Linked DNA regions of Homo sapiens. The protein of the gene in region 4 purifies or fractionates together with the protein of the main gene of each other region. This does not show direct contact. Each region holds a gene or a part of one and is shown on either strand. Other genes may lie near its edges.

Region 1 (4,276 bases), about 69 Mb from region 4:
TAATGAAGAGCGCCTGTTAGATTTTAATAGGGTAAGTGGACTGTCCTCCTCCTCGTCATTAACTTACAAACAGCCACCACCTCCAGTTGTCACTGTAGTCAAAAACCTGGGAGTCATGTGAGTGGACCCCACCTCTCCCAGGAACCAGCCAGGCCTGTGGGTGCAGACTTCCTGTTCTCTGGCCTTTGTTCTGAGTCTGCATTCTCCCCCGCTTCCAAACCCCCTTGACTGTTGACTGCCAGTGCTTCCTGAAGAATCCCCAGCTCTCTCCCCAGTCTTGGCTCTACACTACTGCCCGAGGGCATTGCATTACAAATGCAGAGCTGACCCTGTTGCTCCTTGGGTGGGCACACTTTTCATCTTTTTTTTTTTTGTTTACCTAATAAGTGGGAGACCTAGCCTTGTCCTCTTTGAAAGTGCACCCTGAGGCAGCCTTGCCAGTGTGCTTGTTGCCGCTGTCCCGGCTTCTGCAGAACGATCCCGCCCTTTCCGTGTCCTCCTGCACTCTGTGCACGACTCTTCTTGCTGTAGCCAGAGCATGTACTTGCGTTCCGTTTCTGCATGTCTGCCTCTTCCACAAGCCTGTGGGCACCACGAAGGCGGGAGCGGGGCCTCCGCCTGGTTTAGTCTCGTCTTAGACCTTCCCCGGTTAAGAGGCAGGCAGGCAAATGAACCTAAGGAAAATTCTTTTTATTTGGTGTGAATTGTCAGTGTATTAGGGTTCTCCAGAGGGACAGAACTAATGGAATAGGTATATATATACACAAAGGGGAGTTTATTAAGTATTAACTCACACGATCACAAGGTCCCACAATAGGCCATCTGCAAGCTGAGGAGGAAGGAGAGCCAGTCCCAGTCCCAGTCCCAAAACTGAAGAACTTGGAGTCCGATGTTCGAGGGCAGGAAGCATCCAGCATGGGAGAAGATGTAGGCTGGGAGGCTAGGCCAGTCTAGTCTTTTCACATTTTTCTGCCTGCTTTATATTCTAGCCACGCTGGCAGCTGACTAGATGGTGCCCACCCAGATGAAGGGTGGGTCTGCCTTTCCCAGCCCACTGGATCAAATGTTAATCTCCTTTGGCAACACCCCCACAGACACACCCAGGATCAGTACTTTGCATCCTTTAATCCAATCAAGTTGACACTCAGTATTAACCATAACAAGTCCACCCCTTGTCAATTTGAACCCATACACATCTCCTGAAATTATATGTAATCTTCAAATAAAGACAATAAGGTCATAATTATACCTAACATAATACAGCTATGCTTCATACAACCGGAAAAGCACCAATCCCAAACCCAAGTACTATTACATAGAGTTAACAATACTTAAATGCTGATATGAAGTCAATAAATCTTATGTCAGCCGGGCGCTGTGGCTCACGCTTGTAATCCCATCATTTTGGAAGGCCAAGGTGGGCAGATCACCTGAGGTCAGGAGTTCAAGACCAGCCTGGCCAACATGGCGAAACCCCATCTCTACTAAAAATACAAAAATTAGCCGGGCGTGATGGTGCACCCCTGTAATCCCAGCTACTTGGGAGGCTGAAGCTGGAGAATTGCTTGAACCCAGGAGGTAGAGATTGCAGTGAGCTGAGATCGCACCACTGCACTCCAGCCTGGGTGACAGAGCAAAACTCCATCATTCATTCATACATACATACATACATACATACATACATACATAAATATATACATACATAAATCTTGTGTCACATGATAAAGGACAAAAAATAAAATGAGATTTTCTTAGTACAAGTGTATACATGCACAAACGTGTTTTTAACGAAGGAGGAAATACTCCTCAAGACAATTACAGTCCTGGTTTCTGCACCTGGTCACATGGTCGTAGCTGGTATTGATGACTACCTTCTTCTACTACCCATTCTGTATTCCCTTTGCCTTCAGCAAGCACCTCAGCAGGTTGTGGTTTTTTCCCGGTGGAGTGACCTAAACCTTCATTCCTAAAGAGTCTGAGCCATTTGTATCCTGTCTGGACTGGGCTGTTGTAGTTTCCCGTTAACTTGAATCACACGGCATGTGATCAAGTTGACACTCAGTATTAACCATCTGTCAGTGTCCATTCAAGTCCTGTGAGAACTGTCTGCCCAAGCACCTGTAGCATCATCGTCCACGTCCTGCTGCCCACTGACCTGTCCGGCTCCACACATGAAGGCAGATGTTTGAGGCCCCCACCAGCTCTCTCCTCAGTGACTAGTTCACATCATCCCTCCAGCCTCAAACCCCAAACTGAGACATATTCCCCAGTCCTCTCTCTCATCTTCCACACACAGTCTGCCTGCCAGTCCTGACCGTTCCCCGCTGTCAGCCACTTCGCATCTCCCACTTCTCCTCCTCTCCATCATTACCACTTTGTTCAAGCCACTGTCCCTGCTCCTGAACAGCTGCCATGGTCTTTTCATTGTCCTTCCTGCTTTCGTCATCCTTTCCAGCCTTCTCTCCACACAGCAGACAGAATGACCTCACGAGCAGTATCTTGTTCAGTCCTCACAACGACCCTGTGAGGTAGGTACTGTTGTCATGCCTGTTCTGCAAAATAGGAAAGTGAAGCACAAAAACATCAGGCGCCGTGTATCCGAGGCCAGAGAGCCACAGCTTCAGTGTGGACCTGAACTCTGAACCTCAGCAGTCTGCCTCTAGGACCCATACTGCTAACCATGATGTCACTTTGCTGTTGCATTTGAGACAGATCCAAACTCCCCGCCACGCCTCTACAGCCCTGTATGTTTTGCCCCCGTCTGCCTTTGACCTCATCTGTCTCTGCTCTCCCCTTACTCTGTGTGGCTTTTCTGTGCTTCTGCCTCAGGGGTTCTCAACCAGGGGCAATGCTGCCATTTGGAAATGAGGTGGGAGTGCTGCTAGTTACTATGGCAGGGTGAGGGGAGCTTTGTAATGACTGTGACTGAGGAGGGGCCACCACTGCATCTCATGTCCTGGGGTCCAGAGATGCTGACCATCTGGTGTAGGGGAGACAGTCCGACACCACAGAGTGTTGGCACCTCTGCATGGCTGGCTTCTCAGCTGAGCGGGCCTCTTCTCCAAAGAACTCCCTTCCCAACACACCCATCTGCAGTGCCCCCCCTCACCATCTGTACTGTGTCACTGCAAACTCCCTTCCCAACACACAGGTCTGCAGTGTCCCCTCACCATCTGTACTGTGTCACTGCAAACTCCCTTCCCAACACACCCGTCTGCAGTGCCCCCTCACCATCTGTACTGTGTCACTGCAAACTCCCTTCCCAACACACAGGTCTGTAGTGTCGCCTCACCATCTGTACTGTGTCACTGCAAACTCCCTTCCCAACACAGAGGTCTGCAGTGTCCCCTCACCATCTGTACTGTGTCACTGCAAACTCCCTTCCCAACACACAGGTCTGTAGTGTCGCCTCACCATCTGTACTGTGTCACTGCAAACTCCCTTCCCAACACAGAGGTCTGCAGTGTCCCCTCACCATCTGTACTGTGTCACTGCAAACTCCCTTCCCAACACAGAGGTCTGCAGTGTCCCCTCACCATCTGTACTGTGTCACTGCAAACTCCCTTCCCAACACACAGGTCTGTAGTGTCGCCTCACCATCTGTACTGTGTCACTGCAAACTCCCTTCCCAACACACCCGTCTGCAGTGCCCCCCTCACCATCGGTACTGTGTCACTGCAACTGGCACATGTTGGTTTGCTCGTTCATCTCCCCAGCGAGCCTGGCATGCGCCTTCCACTGCTGGAGTCCCTGTGCCCAGTAAAGTTCCTGGTGCATAGCAGGTACTCAAAGACTTTGAAAATGAAATAATTCTTTATCCTACCCTAACATGGCTAACATTTTGTCCAAGTGACTGAACATGTGGAATTAGGATTTTGGATCCTTCATGGATCAGAGAAGAGAGGCGGTTTTGCTCTGAAACAGTAAAACTCTGCATGTTTGTAACTCCACAGGAAAACACTGATGATTTATTATTTCTTCTTTGTATATAGATAGAGTATCTCACCCTTTTGGGGAAAAAAAAGTCTTTTTGATGTGTTGAAAATTGTTTTAATCTTAGGTGTCTTCTGTTTATGAAGCAAGATGTACAGGAGAGAGAGATTCTGGAGCAAAGTCAGATGGCTTCCGCGGAAAGATGTGCTCCAGCGCCAGCTCCACCTCGGAAGAGACAGGCTCAGAAGGCGGAGGCGAGTGGGTGGGCCCTAGTGAAGAGGAGCTCTTTTCTCGAACTCATCTCTAAACCTGCAAAATAGTACAAATTATTGTTTAAAAATGA
Region 2 (4,276 bases), on a different chromosome or scaffold from region 4:
CCAAAGTGCTGGGATTACAGGCGTGAGCCACTGTGCCTGGCCAGTTTGCATTTTTAAAAGCTCCATGGAAGACTCTGATAGGCCAGACTGCCCTTGCTCTGTGCAAGTCCAGCACCACTCTATCCCCCACTCCCATTAAAAAACAAAACCAAAATGAAATGTTCATGCATTGATTTCCTAAGTCACAAGAAGAAATATAACCAACAAGTAGACCACAACGCTCCTGGAGGGAAACTGGTTCAGGAGCAGGAGGTGGCTACTGACCTCCTCTTGCAGCAAGGGGAGCAGGTGGGTGATCAAGAAATTGAGAGCCTGAGGGGAGAAGGTCTTGTTGCAGTGAGTTCATGGAGGAGCCAGAATCTGAACGAGGTGATGCTTTTCAGACCCCTCCTATCCTGGATCCCTTTGGATGGACCCCTCTGCTTGGAAAGGGGAGAAAGGAGTTCCCCAGGGTGGTCAGAGTAACCTCTCCTGCCTTGGGGGTCCTCTGGGTGTGGGAGGCCTTGCAAGTGCCCAGAGCCAGATGGAGTGATGCTGTTTCAGCAAAGGCGCCAGGAATTTGGGGATGGGAAGGGGTAAGGGGGAGAGAAAGGAGACACAATCTCCGTGGGATTTGGGATGGGGGCAAACAATGCTAGTGGGAGGACATGGAGTGCAGGATTTTTTTTCCCCCCTCAGATTTCCCACTTTAGTTGAAGGCTAAGCCTTTGCCCAGGGGATGCAAACTAATTTCAGTATTAGTTTAAGCCAGAAATAATTGGGAAGGTAAAACTTGCAAAAGAGAAACCACGCCACATATTTCAAAGACAAATTGAAACAATTTCTGGATTATCCCCAGACCTTTCTTCTGTCTACCAGTGATCGGGATTTCTTAGTTGCTGAGACTCTTGCCCTTGCAGACCTTTGTCCTGGCTGAAACCTCATTAATCCTTGCATCAGCCCTGGGGGAGGCAGGTGAGGGTGAGGGATGGCTCTTCCGCTGTTTTAGGAGAGACCACTGAGGTTGAAAGGCCGGTGACGTAGACATAATGTCCTTTGGGCAGGAGCATGGCTTGAACTTCCAGAGACTCCTGGACACCAGCACCTACAAGGAGGCCTTTCGGAAGGACATGATCCGCTGGGGAGAGGAGAAACGCCAGGCTGACCCAGGCTTCTTTTGCAGGAAGATTGTGGAGGGCATCTCCCAGCCCATCTGGGTAAGAGGGCTCCATGGCAGCATGAAGAACACCTGTTTCCCTAGCTCTTCGCTGTGTCCATCTCTCTCTGTCTCCACTGCCACCATCCTGGCCCAAGCCCCCACCATTTCTGGCCTGGACAGTCGCAGTAGCCTCCACACTGGTCTCTAGCTGTGGCTCTTGCCCTCTGTGGTCTATTCATTACACAGTAGCCAGACTGACCTTTTATTATTTATTTATTTATTTATTTATTTATTTATTTATTTATTTTTGAGATGGAGTCTCACACTTGTCGCCTGGGCTGGAGTGCAGTGGCGCAATCTTGGCTCACTGCAACCTCTGCCTCCTGGGTTTAAGTGATTCTTCTGCCTCAGCCTCCCAAGCAGCTGGGACTACAGGTGTCCACCACCACGCCTGGCTAATTTTTGTATTTTTAGTAGAGACGGGTTTTCACCATGTTGGCCAGGCTGGTCTCGAACTCCTGACCTCAGGTGATCCACCCACCTTGGCCTCCCAAAATAGTGGGATTACAGGTGTGAGCCACTGCATGCGGCCCAGACTGACCTTTTAAAAACGTGAACCAGGTGATGTCACTCTTCTGTTTAGAATACTTTGGTGGCTTCCCATTGTGCTCATGAACAAAATGAAAATCCTTCACATGAACTTCTGGGCCTTGTGTGATCCAGTTTCTGCTACTTTTTTAGCCTCCTTACTCCTTAAGCTGTAGCAACACTGGCCTTCTTGGTCCTCAAGTCAGTCGAACTCCTTCTGGAATCAGGGCCTTTGCACATGCCCTTCCACCTGTCTGGACTGCCCTTTCTTTCTCTTTCCCTGGTTAGCTTCAGCTCAGTTGACATGACACCTCCACAGGGAAGCCTTCCCTAATATTCAGGTCTTAACTGGTGCTCCCTGGCAGGTGCTCCTATAGCACCCTACCCCTTTTTTTCCTCATTCATTCTGGCAGTGAATATTGAGTGTCTACTTCTGCCAGGTGTGGTTGCATGTTGTGGGGATATATTGGTGCAAAAGCGCAATGAAATCTCTTCCTTCAGGGAGCTTACATTACAGCTGAGGGTGGCGGGGAGATAGGCACAGAATAAATACAGAATATATCAGGCAGTGGTAAATACTAAGGAGTAAAATAAAGTAGGCCTAGGATATGAGGAGAGATAGGGAAGCGTTGCTGTTTTATTAAGGGTGCCTGGGAAGGCTACACTGATATGATGATGTTTGAGCAAGACCTGAAGGAAATAAGGGATAACTGAATGGATATTTGGGGAAGTAGCTTTCCAGAGAGAGGGAGGAGGAAGTGCAGAGGCTTGAGTGGTGAGTGTGCCTGGTGTGTCTGAGGACAAGCCAGGTGGCCAGAGTGGTGGAAGGTCAGGTCAGACTTCCCAGGGCGGACCTTTGGGAGAGCTGGGATTTTATTCTGAGTGAGATGGGGAGTCACTACAGCGTTCTAAGCAGAGGAGAGACATGATCTGATTTCAGATTGAGAAGCCTGGCCATAGCTGCTGTGGGGAAGATGGGAGCAGAAGCACAGGGGCCGGGTGGAGGACTTTCCTGTGTTTTTTTTTTTTTTTTTTTTTTTTTTTTGAGACAGAGTCTCACTCTTGTCACCAAGGCTGGAGTGCGGTGGCGCGATCTCAGCTCACTCTACCCTCTGCCTTGTGGGTTTAAGCGATTCTTGTGCATCAGCCTCCCGAGTAGCTGGGATTACAGGCATGTGCCATCATGCCCAACTAATTTTTTTTGTATTTTTAGTCGAGACGGTGTTTTACCATTTGGCAAAATTTGAACTCCTGACCTCAAGTGAACCACCCACCTCGGCCTCCCAAAATGCTGGGATTACAGGCATGAGCCACCATGCCTGGCCAGGACCTTTCTGTAACAGACAAAATGACTATGGTTGGGGCGCAGAGGGGAGCAAACGTAGAGTGGAGAGAAGGGGTCAATTTTGCGTGTATTTTGAAGAGAAAACCAACAGGATTTGCCCTTGGGTTGGCTGTGGGGTGTGAGAGACTATACCAAGGATTTTGTTCTGAGCAGGTGGACAAATATAGAATTATCATTTTCTAAGACAGGGAAGGTGGGGAGGAACAGGATTGGAGAGGAAATCAGGAGTTGAGTTTCAGCCGTGTTGAGGTTGAGACACTTGTTGACATACACTGTAATCACATGGTTATTTGATTACTGAATACTTGTTCAGTGTCTCCCACTAGACTGTAAGCTCTGAGAGGGCAGGCACAGGGTCTGTTTTGCTTACCAGTCTAGCCTTAGCACCTAGCACAGTGACCAGCGTACAGTAGGTACTTACTATAATACTTGTTTAATTGGATTAATGAACTTGTCAGCAGCACTGCCTGACATGTAGTCAGCACTCAGTGGTGTATGTTCAATGAATGAATGAATCCGTGAATAGTGAGTCTAGCTGCTGACATGCTCACGATGATGGGGGGGTAGAGCCACACCCCACACTGCCCTGGGTTCTGTAGTCCTCCCACCTCCCCTCACTTCTATCATCCTGTCCTGTTGGTCACCTGTCTGTCCCTCTCCTGCAGCTGGTGAGTGACACACGGAGAGTGTCTGACATCCAGTGGTTTCGGGAGGCCTATGGGGCCGTGACGCAGACGGTCCGCGTTGTAGCGTTGGAGCAGAGCCGACAGCAGCGGGGCTGGGTGTTCACGCCAGGTGAGCCACTCTATGTGTAGGGCACAGGAGGACACAGGCTACCCACCCTGTGGTTTGTCTACCGGGCAGGCCTGGGGGAAGTGAATAAGGGATGATAAAGGAGAATCTGAGGCCTCCTGATTAGGGAGTAGCATGGTGGACAGAATCCTGAGGGTCAAGGTTCCCTTGGCTTAACCTAGGCTATCTTCTCATGGCCAGTGGGCTGCTTTGGTGGTCTGGCTGGGACCCACCCCCATGATTCTTCACCTTTGCTTTCCAGCCCAGTAGGGGCTGACAGTGGTCAGGGGCAAACCTGACAAAGCTCACTTCTGTTTAACACAGTAGTGGAGTTAGAAGTTAGTAGTGGAGAGGAAGTTCTGCTGGGAGCTTCAGTGGTGCAAGCCCAGGACCCGCTCTGTGGGCTTCAGAAG
Region 3 (4,276 bases), on a different chromosome or scaffold from region 4:
CCTATAGTAGATTCAAGATCTAGTGGCCTAGTAACTACAAGTTACCAATCCATAAGAAAATCCTCGGTTAGTTGCTGTATATTTTGATACAGTAGATATGTCACGGGGAGGGTCGTTTGGCTGCGCGAATTACAATTGGCCTTTCTCCTCTCATTGTCTTTTACTTCAATATAATGACTATTTGGCAGATTATTGTATTTACTCTGGCTTTAAGTTACTTTGCATAACCATATGGGAAATTTTAAATATCTGTAAATTGCTAATTAGATTGGGATGCAAGACCCAGAGAAGCACTGAAGCCTTGAGACTTCAGCAAAGTGAATGATGTTATTGATGCTTACTATTGCAGATCTTGGATGATGGAGGGGATCTTACCCACTGGATTTATAAAAAGTATCCCAACATGTTTAAGAAAATCAAGGGCATAGTAGAGGAGAGTGTTACTGGAGTTCACAGGTAAGATTTGACATGGGCATACCTGGTTTTATGCAGTCTAGACATAAAATCTTATAAACACATACCTATAAAACACATGTTAAAAATTGGAGCCTGGGCCAGGCGCGGTGGCTCACGCCTGTAATCCCAGCACTTTGGGAGGCTGAGGTGGGCGGATCACGAGGTCAGGAGATCAAGACCATCCTGGCTAACACGGTGAAACCCCGTCTCTACTAAAAATACAAAAAAATTAGCCTGGTGTGGTGGGCGCCTGTGGTCCCAGCTACTCGGGAGGCTGAGGGAGGAGAATGGCATGAACCCAGGAGGCGGAGCTTGCAGTGAGCAGAGATCATGCCACTGCACTCCAGCCTGGGTGACAGAGCGAGACTCCATCTCAAAAAAAAAAAAAAAAAAAAAAAAAAAAAAATTGGAGCCTGCTATGAGGTAACCACATCTCAGCTTGCTATGAGGTGACCAGATCTCAGCTTGCTATGAGGTGAGCAGATCTCTCTTGTTTTTTTTTTTTAATTAACAACACAAATAATGAACCTAAAATAGTGAGAAGGGGGCAGGTGGGAGAACAAGTGAAGTCCTCATGTTTTCTAGTGATTGTAAACAATTAACTTGTCCTTTTTGGACACATATATTCATTCATTCATTCAACAAATATTTATTGAACTTCTACAATGAATGAGGAACTGCTCTAGATGCTAGGAATCTAGCAGTAGACAAAACAGACAGAAAAAAACTCTGCCATCTTAGAGCTTACATTCTTACATGGAGAGCAAGGATGTAGGGTTCTGCTTCTCAAATGAGTAATAATTCTCTGAGTAAAATTGGAATTATTTCAGTTCAATTTCTGTGATCATTTCTATGATTTATTTCACCCATAAAGAACTAAAAGTATGAAAAAAAAAAGTTGTAGGGAAGTAAATTCTGAACCAGCCACCATCACTGCTTCAATACATTATCATCTTTTTGAATGTACAAAACTGAGGTCAGGAGTTCAAGACCAGCCTGGCCAACGTGGTGAAACCCCGTCTCTACTAAAAATACAAAAATTAGCTGAGTGTGGTGGCGGGCGCCTATAATCCCAGCTACTCAGGAGTCTGAAGCACAAAAATCGCTTGAACCCTGGAGGCAGAGGTTGCAGTAAGCTGAGATCACACCATTGCTCTCCAGCGGGGACAACAAGAGTGAGACTCCATCTCAAAACAAACAAACAAACAATAAAAGCACAAACAGCCAGGCGTAGTCTCATGCACTTGTAGTTCTGGCAGGCAGGGAGACCAGTGCAGATTTAGTGAACATTGTACCTAGTAGGTAATTTTTCAACCTTCAACCCGCTCCCACTCTCCCACTTTTTATAGTCTCCAGTGAAGGCCTTAAAATTTAGAGGTGGGTCAAGGATTTCCCCCACATGACTTTTGAATAAAATCTTTATTGTGAAGCTATATATGCAGGCTCTAGAAAGATATTCTTTATTTCTCAGTGGCCACCTAACAGGATGAAACTAGTCATGTCTCATGGTCTCATGCCTACCCAATCAACGTATTTCTGGGGCCTCCTATGAAAGCAATGGTAGATTGTAATGTCCTGGTGTTTTTTGTTCTTGGCTTCCCTCATCCTCAGGCTGTACCAACTGTCCAAAGCTGGGAAGCTGTGTGTTCCAGCCATGAATGTCAATGACTCAGTCACCAAACAGAAATTTGACAACCTCTACTGTTGCCGTGAATCAATTCTTGATGGGTAATGTTTATTATCTTTGAGATGAAGTTGTGATGTCCAGTTGAGATTCTAAGTTTTTTGGCTTTGGTTATTTCTGGAAAGGATTCATGTAGCACCTCTGGATAATGTCTCCATAAAGCCAGAGCTTTGTCACCTCATAAATTAAAATTACATTATTTTTATTTTCTCCTTTGTATCTTTTCTATTTCTAAATATTATATTTTCAAAATATTATCTAATAAATGTATGTTGCTTTTATGTTTAAAAGTTACTGTGTTATCTACATCTTCTTCCTTTCTGCACCACTTGCAAGAAAGGGGAAAAAAAAAGGAAAAAAACCCTTACATATAGGATTGGTTAGATGGCAGGGAGTGAGAAAATATGTATTTTATTTAACCTTCCTGTCTGGTCATTAGTTTCTCTAGGATAGAAACCAGACTTTCAGTGTTACAGGTCTTTTAGAATTTGTCTAGCAGGTTTTCTGGTCTTTACCAGAAAACCCCTTTAAAAAAATAAAGAAACCAGACTTTCTTTCAAAATGAAAAACCAACCAAAAAACCCCATGAAAACAAAGAGATTCAATCTAACCTCAAGGGAGAAACAAGAGAAGATTTTTCTGATTTAATGTTTTTTTTTCCCCTAGACTTAAAAGGACAACAGACATGATGTTTGGTGGAAAGCAAGTGGTAGTCTGTGGCTATGGAGAGGTGAAGTTTAACCTTTTGTTTATTAGGTGTTTTAAATGGATTTTGTTGAAATATTCTGGAATTTTTTATTTGTATGGACATATGAGTACACCCTTTACCACTTTAGATGAGAAAAAGAATTTCAGAGGCCTTCTGGTTGAAGTAGACTTTCTTTTTCCCTTTGCGTTGCCGCCATTTTCCCTTAAGTTGATTTTCTGACTTGCTCCAGTACCACCGTTTGTGATGTTCTTTTTAGCTTGTGTTTTAATTATGAATCGTGAGTGTGGGTGTTCTTGTGCACATGAATGCGATAAGCAGGAGCCAGGGGTTTGTTTATGAGCTGCATTCAATTATTTGTTCTTCTCGTTTTCCCCAAGTATGAATCTATTCAGTGAAATTCCTCTCGGGGGTGGAAAGAGGGGGTGCACTTTACCAGAAGCTTTGAGAAATGGTTTTCTCAGTGACTTTCCTTAATATGTGTGCTCTCTCCCCTCTTCAGGTGGGGAAAGGGTGCTGTGCTGCCCTGAAAGCCATGGGCTCCATTGTGTATGTAACTGAAATTGACCCCATCTGTGCCCTGCAAGCCTGGTAAGCCTCTACGCTACCATCTCACTTGCAATCTCGGAGCTGTCTCCAAAGAATGGCCTGGTTGATGCCACACTTTATTTTAGAGGAGCCCAGATCCTCAGAGATGCTGCCACTAACTCTAAGCATCTGTCTTTTAAAAAGGTCAAGGAGCTCTGCTTGGAGAGAGCAGAGACTATCAGAAAAGCGAAAATTTAGAAATCCTGTGGAGATAGTAACAGGGATTCTGTCAGCCAGAGAACAGGTAGCCCCTTACCTTCTCCATGTATGATACTTGCCTTTCAAATAATGATCAGAAAAGAAATTGGCAGGCATCAGATGCCTTCTGATGTGTTACACTGAAAATAGCCCTTCTGTGGTATTCCTCCCAAAAATGTATAACCTGAATCTAATTGTGAGGAAACATTAGACCAATCCCAGTTAAGGGTAAAATCTACTAACTCTGAGTGAAGCATATATGAGAATTATTTACACTAGTATTATAATTCTTAAGTTTGAAATGATTCTAAAATTAAAAGTTAAAACTTTTCTTATCTATAAAATGTGTGTAATCATACCTACCTCATAGGATTGTGAGAGTTCAGTAAAATAATAATTAGCATAGGCTGGGTGTAATGGGTTCATGCCTGTAATCCCAGCACTTTGGGAGGCTGAGGCAGGAGGATTGCTTGCGCCCAGGAGTTCGAGACCAGCCTTGGCAACATAGGGAGACCCCATCTCTACAAATAATTTTTTTAAATTAGCTGGGTGTGGTGGTGCATGCCTGTGGTCCCAGCTACTTGGGAGGCTGAAGTATGAGTATCACCTAAGCCTGGGAGGTGGAGGCTGCAGTGAGTTGTGAT
Region 4 (4,678 bases):
TCAAAAGTTCTGCTTCAACTGCCCAAGCAGTGAAATAATTTCCTAGGGGAAGGGAGGGACCATCTACAAGCAGCAGGAGAAAGAGCACTGAGAACCAGGATACAATTACTTTTTGAGAAGAAATTTGGATCAAACCCAAGTGTCATAGTCTTCCTTGGCTGTGTCATTGAATCAAATTGGCTACAAAAAAGTAATCTTTTCTTTAGAAAATTGTTCCTTCACTCCCTTAGAGGCTTACATATACAGCCTGGAAAGGGCTGCCAGTGTGAATGATGATAAAATGAACTTCCCTTGTAATCCCAGCACTTTGGGAGGCCGAGGTGGGCGGATCACCTGAGGTCAGTAGTTCGAGACCAGCCTGACCAACATGGAGAAACCCTGTCTCTACTAAAAATACAAAAATTAGCCGGGCGTGGTGGTGCATGCCTGTAATCCCAGCTACTCGGGAGGCTGAGGCAGGAGAATTGCTTGAACCCGGGAGGTGGAGGTTGCGGTGAGCCGAGATTGCGCCATTGCACTCCAGCCTGGGCAACGAGAGCAAAACTCCGTCTCAAAAAAAAAAAAAAAAAGAACTTCCCACAGGAAGTTGAGAGTGCTGAGGCACTTATAAAGGACTAGATTCCCCTCTCATTTGGGACAGTTGAATTCAGGTTTCTTGGCTGTATTGGATACGCTTGTTACTTGCCTATGTCCACAGTCCCTCATACATATATTCTGTTTCATCGACGAACCCTGGAAATGTCAGTTGTCAGTCCTACGCACCTTCTGGCTATGGCTGATTGGACCACTGATAGACACTCAACTCATTCACTGTCTGGTCAGTGACCAATCAGATTCTCACTTAAGAATTGAGCCACAGTGGAAGACGTCAGTGGAAGGTGTAGGGCAGGGGCTGGAGTGTCAGGTTTTGTCCTGTGGAATGTTGAGAATGCAGAGAAGCCAGTCTGCACATAGAAGCAGCAAAATAGGGAAGGCTTCCGGGACAGAGGAAGAGACCAGAGCCTTGTGGTAACAGAGTGATGTTGGGAGCAGCAGCCTTGGTGTGTGTGTGTTTCTTTTTTTTCGACGGAGTCTCCATCTGTTCCCCAGGCTTGAGTGCAGTGGTGAGATCTCGGCTCACTGCAGCCTCCACCTCCTGGGTTCAAGTGATTCTCCTGCCTCAGCCTCTTGAGTAGCTGGGATTACAGGTGCCCGCCACCACGCCTAGCTAATTTTTGTATTTTTAGTAGAGATGGGGTTTCCCCATGTTGGCCAGGCTGGTCTCAAACTCCTGACCTCAAGTGATCCACTTGCCTTGGGCCTCTCAAAGTGCTGGTGTTATAGGCGTGAGCCACCATGGCCGGCCAGTTTTTGGCTTTTCAGGGAGCCCTAGCTATTCTTAAGTTTCTTGGAGATATCCTTATAATAATCAATCTACCTCCAGCTCTACTTGTTTCTAAAGCTAGCTTGAATGGGTGTCTGTTCCTTGAACAAAATACCAACCCCTTCTCCCACAGCTACTCAGGGTACATTGAAATTCTAAAACTGAAACTAGATTGAGACACTTTAAACTGCAGAAAACGACCAAATCCCACATTAGTAGCTTTTTTCCTGCTAAGTTCTGAACCTTACAGGAAGAAGACATTCTGCCAAGAATCTAGTCGCTAGGAGAGAAGCTAGTCTCGTTTTTTTTTTTTTTTTTTTTTGAGATTGAGTTTCGCTCTGTTGCCCAGGCTGGAGTGCAGTGGCGCGATCTCGGCTCACTGCAAGCTCCGCCTCCCGGGTTCACGCCATTCTCCTGCCTCAGCCTCCCGAGTAGCCGGGACTACAGGCGCGCGCCACCACGCCCGGCTAATTCTTTTTTTAAAATACTTTTAGTAGAGACGAGGTTTCACCGTGTTAGCCAGGCTGGTCTCGATCTCCTGACCTCGTGATCCGCCCGCCTCGGCCTCCCAAAGTGCTGGGATTACAGGCGTGGCCACCACGCCCGGCCAAGCTAGCCTCTCTTTTAAGCCCCATCTTGACATTTTGCTGTCAGCTCAGGCTTAACGAGGCCTTGAGCTCTGCCACTAGGTTAACTGTGCTCCAGCTGTTAAAAACCACCCACCCACCCGCCTCTTGTGCTCATTTCATTTCTAGAAACCTGAAGCTACTCTCTAAATCCTCCTCTAACAATTGGGTTTCAGAGCCTGCAAGGCAAGTTTTCTCTGACTCTGGGATGTCCAGTAGTGTTCAGTGCTCTCTTTTTCTGGGAATTTTCAAGGGTTCAAGATCAAGGTATAAGCTTGCTTCAATCACTTACCCAGGAATGTGGGCAGGACCCCATAAAACCACATTCTTCCAAACAAACTAGACCTATGGTGATCCTATCGGGTCGCTAGTTAGCTAGCACAAGTGTCCTAAAATGTGGGAACAATAGTGATTGGTTTGGGAACCTGTCACATCTTACAAAGTTAGGGCCACACATCTGAGAAAGTGGGTTGATGCCATTTATGGTCTGTGACTTCAGCTGATCTAACACTGCTCATTAATTCTTTTATCTTTGTTCTTCTCTGTTCCTTATCTTCTAAACCTTTGCTATCTTCTCAAATTTCCCTCAAAATTTTCATTCTTCATTCATCTGAAGAATTTGCTTTGAAACTCTCTCTACCTTTCTAAGTTGATTAATCAGCTTCATATTCCGGAGAGAAAGCTGAGGTAATCTGCCATGAACTTCTTTGGTTCCTACTCCTCTCTCTTTAAAGTCTGTACACCTACTGATTCCACTTCTCCCCCTATTTAATCCATTGGAATCTAACCCTGCCTCCTTCCCTCTCCAAAAACCACTTTGGCAAAAGTCATCAATTGTCCTGGGCTTCTGAAAAGGTGGTTGCAGATGCCCAGAGCACTCTTTGCCTGGCTAACTCCTGTTCAAGTCTCTCTCTCTCTCTCTTTTTGTCAGGGAGGCCTTTCCTACCCAGAGGCTTGGTTAAAACCCTTTGCAACATGCTTTCTTAGCACCCTGTGAGTCCACTTTCATCATACTCATCAGCTGTGTGATTATTATTCAGTGGCTATATGCCTGCTCCACTGAAAGATCTACGTGACCGTCTTGTAGACTGCTGCCTCCTCATCCCTAGCACGGTGCCTCCAGTACAATTGAATTGATTGAGAGAAATCTCAGTTTCTATAATTGCAAAGTTACCAAGTTCCTACTTCTCAGGAGTAGTGTGTTGAATAATAAGCAAATATTTCCCCGTATGTAACATACTGACATGCTATCAAAGGCACTGGATGTCAAAGATGAGAGCTCTTCTGCAAGCTTAATAAGACCAAAGTAGGTCAAATATTTAAATGTAGATTAAAAACATTTTGAGAGGCAGAATAGCAAAGTGTTTAAAAGGATAGGCTCTAGAGCCAGGCTTCCTGAGCTCTGCCATTTCATAACTGGGTGAACACAGATAGATTCCTTAACCTCTTTGAGTCTCATTTTCCTCCTTTGTAAAATGAAGAAAAGAATACTACCCATCTCATCATCTCTTTGTGAGTGTTACCGGAAATAAAATGTGTAAAGTGCTGAGAACATTGCTGGACATACAGTTCACACTTAATAAGTGTTAGCTACGGTTATTAATCTTGAATGTTATGGAAACATTCTGTTAGCCTGAGCACCATTTTCTTAGGCCCATAAAATTTGTGCATTAAAGATAGGGCTACTGGGGACACACGTTACTAGAATAGGACCTCGCCAATGACAGGGACTGTTGACTCTTGGTCACTGCCGGTGTCTCCAGCACCTAGAATAGTCCCTGGCTTATAGTGGTGCTCAGTAAATACTTGATGAGTTAAATGGTCAGGCCGACCTTGAATGTTCCTCTCTGTATATTTTGTGGAGTTCAGTGAGTATTTAATTTCAGTCGCAGAAAATCTGCAATAATAAATTATATTAAAAATTGGCTGGGCGTGGTGGCTTACACTTATAATCCCAGCACTTTGGGAGGCTGAGCCAGGCAGATTACTTAAGCTCAGGAGTTCAAGACCAGCCTGGCCAACATGGTGAAACCTCGTCTCTACTAAAAACACAAAAATTAGCCGGGCATGGTGGCAGACACTTGTAATCCCAGCTACTCTGGAGGCTGAGGCAGGAGAATCATCTGAACCCAGGAGGCGGAGGTTGCAGTGAGCTGAGATAGTGCCACTGCACACTCCAGCCTGGGCGACAGAGGGAGACCCTGTCTCAAACAAACATACAAACAAACAAACAAAAAAATTAGAGTATAATAGAAAAAACAAGGCAAAATATTGCTTGGAATTTGAATATCAGTTTTAAGGTGGTTTATTATAGTCTAGACATGAAATTCACAGCATACCAACAACTACTTTAAAAACAAGTACTTTTTTAAAAAAAGGTAATGATGAAAGACCTTTTTTTTTTTTTATAATTACCTATACTCTGTGGTTATTTGGGCAGACAAAGCTGGCTTGCAGTGAACTATACTGATTTTAAGAGAAGTCAGCTTTCTACTTAAAGTTTAAGTGTGCAGTTCTTCCCTTACATGGTGCATGGAGTCTTAGAAACTAATTCTCATGTGCTTTCAGACTTGAGCCAGAAAGAATAAGTTCTATGATTGATTTACTCACAATAACTGCAAAACTCAATTTATTTTGTAGACTCAAAGAATGACTATCTTGGTCAAATCTCTAATTTCACAGATAAAAT

What was found.
Region 1: the proteins of ODAPH (region 4) and KIAA0232 purify together in Homo sapiens (affinity purification with mass spectrometry; 2 studies listed by BioGRID and IntAct, with this or other methods). This does not show direct contact.
Region 2: the proteins of ODAPH (region 4) and PMVK purify together in Homo sapiens (affinity purification with mass spectrometry; 2 studies listed by BioGRID and IntAct, with this or other methods). This does not show direct contact.
Region 3: the proteins of ODAPH (region 4) and AHCYL2 purify together in Homo sapiens (affinity purification with mass spectrometry; 2 studies listed by BioGRID and IntAct, with this or other methods). This does not show direct contact.

What each region holds. Positions count from the first base shown.
Region 1 is NC_000004.12:6,876,727-6,881,002, forward strand, and holds part of KIAA0232 (uncharacterized protein KIAA0232), read left to right. Parts: coding exon 1-31; intron 32-4,060; coding exon 4,061-4,240; 3' UTR 4,241-4,276.
Region 2 is NC_000001.11:154,925,944-154,930,219, reverse strand, and holds part of PMVK (phosphomevalonate kinase), read left to right. Parts: intron 1-1,043; coding exon 1,044-1,196; intron 1,197-3,736; coding exon 3,737-3,866; intron 3,867-4,276. UniProt on the Homo sapiens protein: Catalyzes the reversible ATP-dependent phosphorylation of mevalonate 5-phosphate to produce mevalonate diphosphate and ADP, a key step in the mevalonic acid mediated biosynthesis of isopentenyl diphosphate and other polyisoprenoid metabolites.
Region 3 is NC_000007.14:129,403,030-129,407,305, forward strand, and holds part of AHCYL2 (adenosylhomocysteinase 3), read left to right. Parts: intron 1-349; coding exon 350-456; intron 457-2,067; coding exon 2,068-2,184; intron 2,185-2,806; coding exon 2,807-2,870; intron 2,871-3,348; coding exon 3,349-3,437; intron 3,438-4,276. UniProt on the Homo sapiens protein: May regulate the electrogenic sodium/bicarbonate cotransporter SLC4A4 activity and Mg(2+)-sensitivity. On the contrary of its homolog AHCYL1, does not regulate ITPR1 sensitivity to inositol 1,4,5-trisphosphate.
Region 4 is NC_000004.12:75,558,231-75,562,908, reverse strand, and holds part of ODAPH (odontogenesis associated phosphoprotein isoform 2 precursor), read right to left. Parts: intron 1-4,678. UniProt on the Homo sapiens protein: May promote nucleation of hydroxyapatite.